Homo sapiens: one gene and its partners. The protein of the gene in region 2 purifies or fractionates together with the protein of the main gene of each other region. This does not show direct contact. Each region holds a gene or a part of one and is shown on either strand. Other genes may lie near its edges.

What was found.
Region 1: the proteins of GHITM (region 2) and ANKLE2 purify together in Homo sapiens (affinity purification with mass spectrometry; 2 studies listed by BioGRID and IntAct, with this or other methods). This does not show direct contact.
Region 3: the proteins of GHITM (region 2) and CTH purify together in Homo sapiens (affinity purification with mass spectrometry; 2 studies listed by BioGRID and IntAct, with this or other methods). This does not show direct contact.

Annotation. Positions count from the first base shown.
Region 1 is NC_000012.12:132,724,886-132,727,956, forward strand, and holds the end of ANKLE2 (ankyrin repeat and LEM domain-containing protein 2), read right to left. Parts: intron 2,559-3,071; coding exon 2,357-2,558; 3' UTR 618-2,356; downstream 1-617. UniProt on the Homo sapiens protein: Involved in mitotic nuclear envelope reassembly by promoting dephosphorylation of BAF/BANF1 during mitotic exit.
Region 2 is NC_000010.11:84,145,962-84,149,617, reverse strand, and holds part of GHITM (growth hormone-inducible transmembrane protein), read right to left. Parts: intron 889-3,656; coding exon 780-888; intron 1-779. UniProt on the Homo sapiens protein: Plays an important role in maintenance of mitochondrial morphology and in mediating either calcium or potassium/proton antiport. Mediates proton-dependent calcium efflux from mitochondrion.
Region 3 is NC_000001.11:70,421,130-70,424,785, reverse strand, and holds part of CTH (cystathionine gamma-lyase), read right to left. Parts: intron 3,221-3,656; coding exon 3,111-3,220; intron 1,653-3,110; exon of another isoform or gene 1,514-1,652; intron 502-1,513; coding exon 370-501; intron 1-369. UniProt on the Homo sapiens protein: Catalyzes the last step in the trans-sulfuration pathway from L-methionine to L-cysteine in a pyridoxal-5'-phosphate (PLP)-dependent manner, which consists on cleaving the L,L-cystathionine molecule into L-cysteine, ammonia and 2-oxobutanoate.

The DNA of each region.
Region 1 (3,071 bases), on a different chromosome or scaffold from region 2:
CCACCAGATGGCGGCCAGCTGCCAGGGGTCGCCATGCCGACGTTTATCCCAAAGCCTTTTCTAAGGAGGGAGCACGGGCGGGAATCTGCAGCTGGAGCAGTCACAGGGTTTCCAACCACGACAAACACGCCTGCACCCCGCACGCACAGCCGGGCCCCAATGAGGGTTTCCATCAGCCCTTCCCTGGGAAAACTCTGCAGGCTTCTGGAAACATCCACACGGCTCTGGAGGACCTGGCTGTGGTCCCTGCCATGGCGCCGCTGGCACTCCCACGGCTGGTACGCAGCACCATGGCTGCTTTTACCCAGAAACGAGCAGCAGACTCACCGGGCGCCTCCCTCACAGCTGCCACCACGCTGGAGAAGGGCACTTTCCAACCAAAGCCACCACAGCAACTGTTAATGTCACCAAGGTTTCCCACTGCCAAGAGCAACGGTAAAATCTGTGCTCTTTTAACGGATGCCAGAAAATCTTTCACAACTGAGTCAAGAAAGGGGCTTAAAAACAGCGAGCGAATCTGAGGGCACCCAGGTTGATGGCCGTCCAACCAAAACAGTGCCGTGCGCCTGGGCACAAGTGAGGGATCCTTCCGAAAGCTTGCAATTATTACCACGCGGTTTTGAAGTAATTCATTTCATTAAGTGTTTTGTGAAGGACATAACCCCCCGGGACACACGAGAATGCCTCCGTTGGGACTGGAATCGCTGCCCACAAACAAACGGAGAAACAGTCAAAGGTGGCCTAAGACCTGGGAAATCAGGAGCAGTGGTCCACATACAAAATCAGGGCCAAAACGTTTTACTTTCCATTTGAATTTACAACCATATACAGACAATATGGTAAGATTTTAGAGAAAACAGATCATCACTACGAATATCCATATTCTGATTTCTTTTGAGAACCAAGGTGCCTTTTAAAATGCGGCTTTTTAGAATAGCATGTGTTGTTTCTGTCTGGGATCTAGATCTTGTCTGCTACAAAACAAATGAACACACCCTGTGTAACAAAATCGAATTTTAACATTTAAATCTTGATTCCAATATTCCTGACCTATCTCTTGTCATATGAAAGAAAGAAGCCTTTTTTTAAAACAAAGTTTCAATTCAGAATTTTTACAAACAAAAACAATCCTGCGTCTACTTAATATCCCTGTATATCCTCAAAAAGCAAGTTCAGGAAATTTAAAAATGATTTATAAAAGGCACTGAAGTTAGCAAAAGCATTGGTGGGTTTTCATTTTGGATTAAACACTGGAAATGTTCACAGAGAAACAACTGTGTGAGCAGTTGCCCGTAACACCCAGGAAGAAACCGACCTCCAGGCAGCACCTCCTGAACACCTCAGCGGCTCCTCACACATTCCAACCACAGACCTTCATTCAAGTCAAGGTGAAGGCTACAGTCAGCACGGCAAGAAACCAAGATGGGACTCAAACCTCTAAATGCAACACTCTGCATACAGGAGATCCCAACTGAAATGAGTTCCAAAATAACGGATACCTTTATCGTATAATCATTTATGCTCAACAAAGCCTCAGGATAAATTTGAAAACAGAACAATGTATAGACTGTATTACTGCTGCACTGGCTCCTGAATGAAGCAGGCGGTGAAGGCTCACGTGCTGAGGAAACAGGGAACACCTTGGCGCCGCTGCTGAGCTCTGTGTTGCTCCTGGTATCACTCCCACGGGCTGCAAGACTTCCCAAGAGAAAAGCTACTTTCATCTTCTGATCAGTAATTTAAATATTCCGAACAACCCAAATCACAATGGTTGCTGCAAGTCTGAGGCGCGCTCCTGGCTCCCTGATCCCTGCCGTCCACCTCCCTCTGTCTGAACCATGAGACCCACGGGCGAACCAACAGGCACTCTGCCACCATCAGATGCCACCCCCCAACCCAGGAAAAGACAGGGCGGCAAATAGTTCATCTTGGTGAGTGCAGGTTATCAAAGGGACATCGGTGCTCACGCCTCCGCCAAGCCCCTCCTCATCCACAGCGTCTGTCGGATGAGGTGAGTACAGGGTAAGTACAGGGCTGCCTGCCTGCAACTGCCTCAGCGCCCTTTCCTCTGCTATATTTCAGACCTAGAAATTGCCACCTAAAAAGTCTACCATTACCACATGGATATTTTCCAGAAAATTGGTAACTGAGTTTGCTTTCATTAACTTCTAACTTCTTCCAAAATATCAGAAATCTAAGTGTTATATAGAACATTTAAATCTTCTAAAATTCTCACACCCTCAAAGTGAGGAGTAATAATTTAATCAGAATATATTCCTTTTTGACAGTTTAGCAATAAACATATGACCCTTCCTTCTTTAAAAATGAAGAACAAACCGAGAGCCCAGCGCCAAGCCTACAGGGCGGCAAGCTCAGCCAGGCGCGCCATCCTGCGGAGCTGGCTCCCGTGCACGGGGCTGTAGCGCCCAGGACTGCCCAGGCCTGGCTTTGCGGGGTTGCTTCCAGCCACGCTGTTTCTCCCCGGACTGTAGCTGTGAGGGCCACTGAGATCTGGCAGCTGAGACTTGAACCTTCCTTTCACCGCGGGACTGGGCCAACTGCGGAAAGCAAGAAAGAACTGTTAGCAGACGGGCACAGGCCCGGAGATGAACAGCAAAAGTCGGAGAATAATGGCCCCAGACTCAGGCACATGCGCCCGGGCGGAGGAGAGGCACTGGTGAACCCTGGCACCGCGGGCACACACGCCCGGGTGGAAGAGACGCACTGCTGAACCCTGGCACCGCGGGCACACGCGCCCGGGCGGAGGAGACACACTGCTGAACCCTGGCACCGTGGGCACATGCGTCTGGGTGGAGGAGAGGCACTGCTGAACCCTGGCACCGCGGGCACTGGGAGAGTCAAGCTCATGGGGGTTTCCCGGAGAATCCTGTGTGATCTGAGTAGAAACCCTGCTGCTTCCACCCTTCTAGCCCTCAGCTTGTCAGGAGCTGACCCGTTCAGCTTTTCCACCCAACCAGAGCTCTGTCCTGTGTGCAGAGAGCCACAACACCCAAATCCACAGCCTGGCTGACGGGCCTGCCAGCGTTGGGAAAAGCCACTGATAGGTTCGC
Region 2 (3,656 bases):
CTTTATGTAATAAGGACTGCTAACAGCTTATAAATAAGTAATTTTAGTTGTCAGATATTTATAAACAATTTCGTAAAAAATTTACCAGTAATTCAACAAAGGTAAATGGAACTCCTTAATTGAAAAAAAACTTAGATAATGCATTATTTCAGTGCTAAGAAGAATAAGTTACCTTTTTCTTAAATGTCGTTTACCTCATAGACTAGGCACAAAGCTATCTTTATACTGAATTTTCAATACTAGCTTAAAGAATAACATTTCTAGATCAAGTTATATGGTTAATAAGGTATACTATCTCATGATGATGAATAATTTAAAAATACTTTTTGCTCTAGGCAAAACAGTGGGTGAAATTTCTACACAGAACACTTCTATTAGGACTCCTCTCAGTTTTTTGTTATTTCGCAGCAACATTTTTAGCACAACTTTCTCTATCCTCAGTTTTTAATTTTTCTAAACATACCAGACAAAAACAACTCTCAAATGATGCGTACTAGATATAAAACCCTCCTGGTATCGAACAAAATACACAAAAGTAAATCTCTGCATATACTAGACTGTCAGAAGATACAAGTTTCGTATTGAAGATGTCCATGGTCTTAGCAAAATCAACTTTTCAAAGCAAAGGTCTGGCAATAATGCAGCCAGTAATGACTGAAGAAAATGGTGTTTTCTAAACATGAGGCTTAAATTCCATGTAGGTCATTTACAACTGTGAAGAGCCACCCAAAAAAGGTGGTAGTCAAGGTTGTCTCGTAACAATTTAAAACAGAACATACCAGAATGTAGCAACCAAGCAAGATGCTTTGGGCCTGGGCTCTGGTCATATGGTATTGATCGTACCAGCATTCCAGCTCCAACCATGGCTGCAAAGGTCACACCAATTGTCTGAAAGACAAGTACTATTAAGAAAAACTGATCTTTATATGAAAACAAAGCAGAAACCCACAGGTTTGAAGTACAATTAGTTACTTCTAATAAACTAGTTGTAAAAATATTAAAGATAATAAATCAAAGCTTAAGGCCAGGCGTGGTGGCTCACGCCTGCAATCCCAGCACTTTGGGAGGCTGGGGCAGGTGGATCACCTGAGGTCAGAAGTTTGAGACCAGCCTGGCTAACTGGTGAAACCCTGTCTCTACTACAAATACAAAAATTAGCCAGGCGCAGTGGTGCGCGCCTGTAGTCCCAGCTACTTGGGAGGCTGAGTGAGGTGGGAAAATCACTTGAACCCGGGAGGTGGAGGTTGCAATGAGGCAAGATCGTGCCACTGCACTCTAGCCTGGGTGACAGAGCGAGACTCCATCTCAAAATAAAAAAATAAAAAATAAAAAATAAAAAATAAAAACTTTAATTTTTCTGGCACATTAAAAGCTCTGGGTTTATTTCAGAGTTTTGGCTAAGTTAGCACGAGTGCCCCCTACTGCCATATATGAGGTTTTGCAGACAGCTTCAAATGCATGTCTTAAGCTTGAACTGGCAACACATCTTTTAACAATTTTACTCTTGTTGGACAGAGGTGAAACAAAAACCCTTTAGGGATCCCAAGATAATTAACTCTTAATTAAAAAATATATTTTTGTATAGCACAAATAGCATTTTCTTTAAAATCAGTGATGCTTACAAATTAGTAATTTTTAAAAAAAATATATATAGCACATCACTTTGAACTCCATATTTGCTAAATGAAGACTTGAAAAATAGAAAGTAGATTATCACAGCACATGGAAAAGAAAAATGAGAAATAAGATTCTACACTTCTACCCTTCCAGGTTTATGGCTAATTTGGTCCTCATTCCTTTTCTTTGCCTATCTTAGATTTCCAGTGTTATAATTAAATATTGCTTGTGTATGACAAGAAGAATGTATTAACATGTAATGGAAATAAGATGGTGCTAATCTCCAAGAAATTTAAATCAGAGATTGCAAACTTGTAGCCCTTGGAATCAGGCCACAGATGTTTTGTTTGGCAAACTATGTTTAAAAAAACAAACAAAAAAAAAGAACATGGTGAATGGTTTTAGTTGAAAAGGTTAACTCTAGATGTCAGTAACCTCTAGATGTCAACAATCTCCTGTGTGACACACTAGGCCTCCTCACTCATCTGTATTATCTGTCTCACCTATGAACATCAAAATATTCAACCTCTAATATAAAGTACAGGTAAACCAAATAGCTGGTTTTGCCAAGAATGGGAAAACCTTAACATGAAAAAGCATACTGAGCTGGGTGTAGTGGTATGGACCTGTAATGTCAGTTACTTGGGTGGCTGAGGTGAAAGGACCACTTGAGCCTGGGAATTTAAGCCAAGCCTAGGCAAACATAGAGATCTAGTCTCTATTTTTAAAAAACATTAAAAAGAAAAGAAAAGCATATCGAGCTCCACTCCACCATTTTCTAACGAGAAATAATTACTACAAACTATTTCACACATCCTCTGTGGACAGCAGCAATTAAATTTTTTTAAGATCTTCTATGATCCAGTCTCACTCCAAACTCTGCATTCCAACCATACGGAACTGGCACAGCTGCCAACATGCCCCAAAATTTCAGGCCTCCTTAATTCAATCCATCATGCCTAAGAATATCTCCTTCCATATCTGGTCGACTTACTCTGGTACTGTCTCATCTCAAAAGCTTTTTCTAGTAGGTACCCTGGCTGCCCAAGAGCAAGATCAGATACCTCTCCTCAGATGCACTTGGGACAAACTTTGACATTATCTGTGTGTCTATGTGTGTGTTTGTATATATATGTCTGTCACACCCAAAAGGTTACATCTTCATCTCTGTAACACTTGTCTTTGGCTTTCCTATTTTCTGTATTACTAACAGTGGAAGAGGGTAATCTTTTGCCCAGAAGGGACTGAGGATATGGCCCAAACACAAAACTTCTTTGAAGCCTCATTTTAGGGCCTAAAATTTTAGGTAAATATTGTCATGTTTATTACAAAAGTATTGTTTTAAATTATTTGCTTCTGATTAAAACTGACATCCCCAGTGAAACATTCTGTGCCTTTGTGAACCTCTGGGCTGGGAGATTCATGACGTCTATGTGAAAAAGCATGATCCTAAGAATATATAAATATCCAAATGGCTGCTACTGTAAATGGTTATCCTTTAGTAAAGTACAACACAGTGAAAATAATATGGTTTTCGTCCCTATGTGGGGAATCAGTGTTACATGAACTCTCCTTCCCCTCCAGTATCACACTCTGCTCTAGTTCAGGTTCTTATCATCCCTCATTTCAGATCTTACAAAGGCACAGCTGGTACACCTGCTCCATGTCTCTTCCACATTGGTTCTAAAAACTCAAATATAAATCACGCTTTTGTTGTTCCAGTATCTCCAATGGCCTCCGACTGCTTAGGTTCTCTCCTCAGCTTGACAACTGTATCCTTTCTAACCACGTCTTCTTTACCCTCCAGACCTCAAACACTTGAATTTCCCTCTAATGGGATTGTAAGTCACCTCTGAAATTAGGTTTTCCTACCTCCTCTTCCCTTAAACTGTTTGGTAAAATTGGACCGCCCTTGTCTACTTAAAAAAATTTTTTTTTAATTTTTAAAATTTTCTATTTCTTTAAAAATTACAGACAGTGTCTCACTATGTTGCTCAGGTTGGTCTCAAATTCCTGGGCTCAAGCAATCTTCCTGCCTC
Region 3 (3,656 bases), on a different chromosome or scaffold from region 2:
AGCTAATTTTTTGTATTTTTAGTAGAGACGGGGTTTCACCATGGTCTTGATCCCTGATCTCCTGATCCGCCCGCCTCGGCCTCCCAAAGTGCTGGGATTACAGGCGTGAGCCACCACGCACAGCCCTGAGAACTGGTAAGCTTTAATAAATAAAAAACACAAAGTAACATAGAGGATATTAACATAGGTTTGAAAAGATATTAACTAATGGTAGAAGAGGTCCAAATTTAATTCTCGATCCAGTAAATAATTAATTATGATTAGATTTCATGAATTTGATCATGATTTTAATTTAAGCAAGTCCTTTCTTTCCTAATTACAGATATATGTGGTCTACTAATTGTGCCAAAAAAAATTATTTTCATTTACCTGGAAATATGGTGACATAAAAGTGTTATCCACGACCAAAATAATGTCTCCATGCTTATGGACAATATGTGCACAGCCTTCAATGTCAATCACCTTCTGGGTGGGGTTTGTGGGGGTTTCGATCCAAACAAGCTAAAATAATTCAGCAAATAACAGTAGTTTGTAAAAATATACTTTACAAACATACATCTCATATATTGTAACAATCTGGGAAGCTACATTGTATAATGGAAACACATGGATGATGATGTTGGGAGGTTCAAATCTGAATCCCAGCCTTACCTGCAAATTTCTGAAGCCGTAGGTATGTAATGTATCCTATTGATCTGTATAATTGGGTTGGTAATACCTATCTTACAGAATTTTTTGTAAAGATCAAGTGAGATAACGTACATGTAAACAGAAAAGTACTAAAGTTAATTATTGTACTTTTCTTAAAAAAGAAAGTGTATTCCAAAGACAGCTCAGTGTCTGGAAATTTTGTCTCAGAGATGAATAACATAGATTGTGTAAGAATACATCCTAGAATTTTAATGAAAGAGAATTATCCCTATGATGCCAAAAATATATTTAATATGAACTTAATGCCAGAAACTCTAGAAACTATAGAATAAGTATCTAAGACTTGAAGAGCATGGGCTTTAGACTAAAGAAGAAAAGTGACACCCACAACAGAAAACGTGGTTACCGCCTACTTAAAAAGTAACAATGACCTTTATATCTCAAAACCTACCACAATTCAGACACATGGTAGATGCTTGATAGTTATCAAAAAGACCAAAGAAAAGAATTCTATTTGTTGAACGAAATGCCATTGTACTGAATTACTTTCTTTTTTTTTTTTAAGCAGCAGGGTCTCACTTTGTTGCCCAGGCTAGAGTGCAGTGGCATGATCACAGCTAACGGCAGCTTCGACCTTTCAGGCCCAAGTGATCCTCCTACCTCAGCCTCTCCAGTAGTTGGAACTACAGGCATGTGCCACCATGCTCGGCCAATTATTATTATTATTTTTTTTTTTTTGCAGAGAAAGGGTCTCGCTATATATCTTGAACTCCTGGTTCAAGTGATCCTCCTGCCTCAGCCTCCCAAAGTGCTGGTATTACAGGCATGAGCCACTGTGCCCAGCTGATTCTTTTTTTATTACCTGTTATTTAAATGGGCAAGAGATCTGGTTTAAACTCTTCTGACTTTAGAGTTTTACTCTGGAAAAGATAAGATGGTTAAATAATACATATTCTACAAAAATCTTGAATTATTTAAAGAATCTATAAAAATTATTCCTGGTAAGAATTTATTATTCCTACTGATAATAAAAAAAATAAAAATTACCAAATAAATAAAAAGTAGGTTTTACATGGACTTAAACATTCTACTTCAAGTGAAAAACCTGATATTTTAGGAAGGAAAAGGTATTAATTCAAGTTGGTAGAGTCACTATATAAAATTCTGTTGACAAGACTTACTGTACTCATAATTTGCTTTCCTCCCTTAGAAAGATTCAGACCAGGGCCCGGCACGGTGGCTCATGCCTGTAATCGCAGCACTTTGGGAGGCTGAGGCAGGCGGATCACAAGGTCAGGAGTTCAAGATCAGCCTGGCCAACAAGGTGAAACCCCATCTCTACTAAAAATACAAAAATTAGCTGAGCATGGTGATGGGCGCCTGTAATCCCAGCTACTCGGTAGGCTGAGGCAGGAGAATCATTTGAACCCAAGAGGCAGAGCTTGCAGTGAGCTGGGATTGCGCCATTGCACTACAGCCTGGGTGACAGGGTGAGACTCCGTCTCAAAAAAAAAAAAAAAAAAAAGACTCAGACCAGCTATTTTAATGTGACTTTTCTCCCAAGCAAGATAAAAAACAAGTTCTTCTGGAAACAAACCTTAATTACCAAAAGCTCAACCATGTTAATGTGCAAAGTAATTATTTGTACATGAAAAGATATTTATTTTTTAGCATTCATTGCAACATAATCTTGGGTACAATTCTAACCTTTTAATCATTAGCAAAAAGTTGTAAACAGCTGACTTATAAAAGACACTGGTCCTTCTTTTATCCACACAGAATTTAAATAAGGTCCCAAGAAAGAATATCACATATGCCATTCACTCAGACACAAAACACCTTCCGGTGGCATACAAATTTCCCAGGATGGAAGCTAAAGATTGCTTGTGGCCTATTCTCCACATCTAACTAGTATCTGGGCAGCATCCCTTACAGCCCGGCAAAGCCACTGTGCTTCGAGTTTGGGGGTTTGGCAGGCTTCTTTTTCTATAGTCCAATCTCTGTGATGACTTCTGTTACCAATACTCTTTTGGCTATGCAGTTAAAAATTAGGTGCTCCTGCATAGAAATTTTTTTAACAATTACCATGTATCCAGGAACTATACTAAGCATTTCATATTCATTATCTCATTTGATTCTCACACTCCCGTTTCTATAAAACCGGTATAATTATCTCCATTTTGCAAATGAAGAAACTGAGACTTTGGTTAAATAATTTGCCCAAGATAATATACTAACTAAGATAACAGAATCACAATTTGAATTCTACTCCAGAAATCATGTACTACCATTATGCTATAACACCCCGGAGATGACAGTCTATCTTAATTTTGTTGATGTTTCCAATGGCATAAAATAAAATTTGTTATTCACATTAAATTATATCCTCTAGTAAACAGAAATGATGAAAACAAAACATCGAAGGAAAAACAGGCAAAACTGAAAATGAGCTGAGTTACCTTGGTTTCTGGTGTAATTGCTGCCTCTAGTAATTTGATTTTGGAACAATCAACAAAAGAAATCTTTAATCCAAATTCAGATGCCACTTGCCTGAAGTACCTGTTTGTACCTGAGACAGAAGGGAATCAGATAAAATGAAAAGAACATTGCATTAAGAAACATTCATTCCTTCTATGTATAAACACTTACAAAATATATGGAACTCTCAGTCACCAAGGAAAATGCAACTAAAAGCAATTCTAGTTTGGTTAAATAGTTTGGCTATCTGATATAGTAAAGAATAATAAGGTTTGTTCTCTAAAGGCTCAAGAGTCAAATAAAACACACTTGAGATCCAAAAGTAGCATGAAGCAAATAATGTTTTTCAAAACATCCAATCTCCACTAAGTGACATGCTTCCTGAAACATCATATCTTTTCAAACAATTTCTACCTAGTTCTCAACTCTAAACTAAATGAATCAATGTCAATGAAAGGTTCAAAATAAATTTCAATATACTTTGTAATGGAAAAGAATTGGTTACTATTCTTTGTACTTTTTTGATC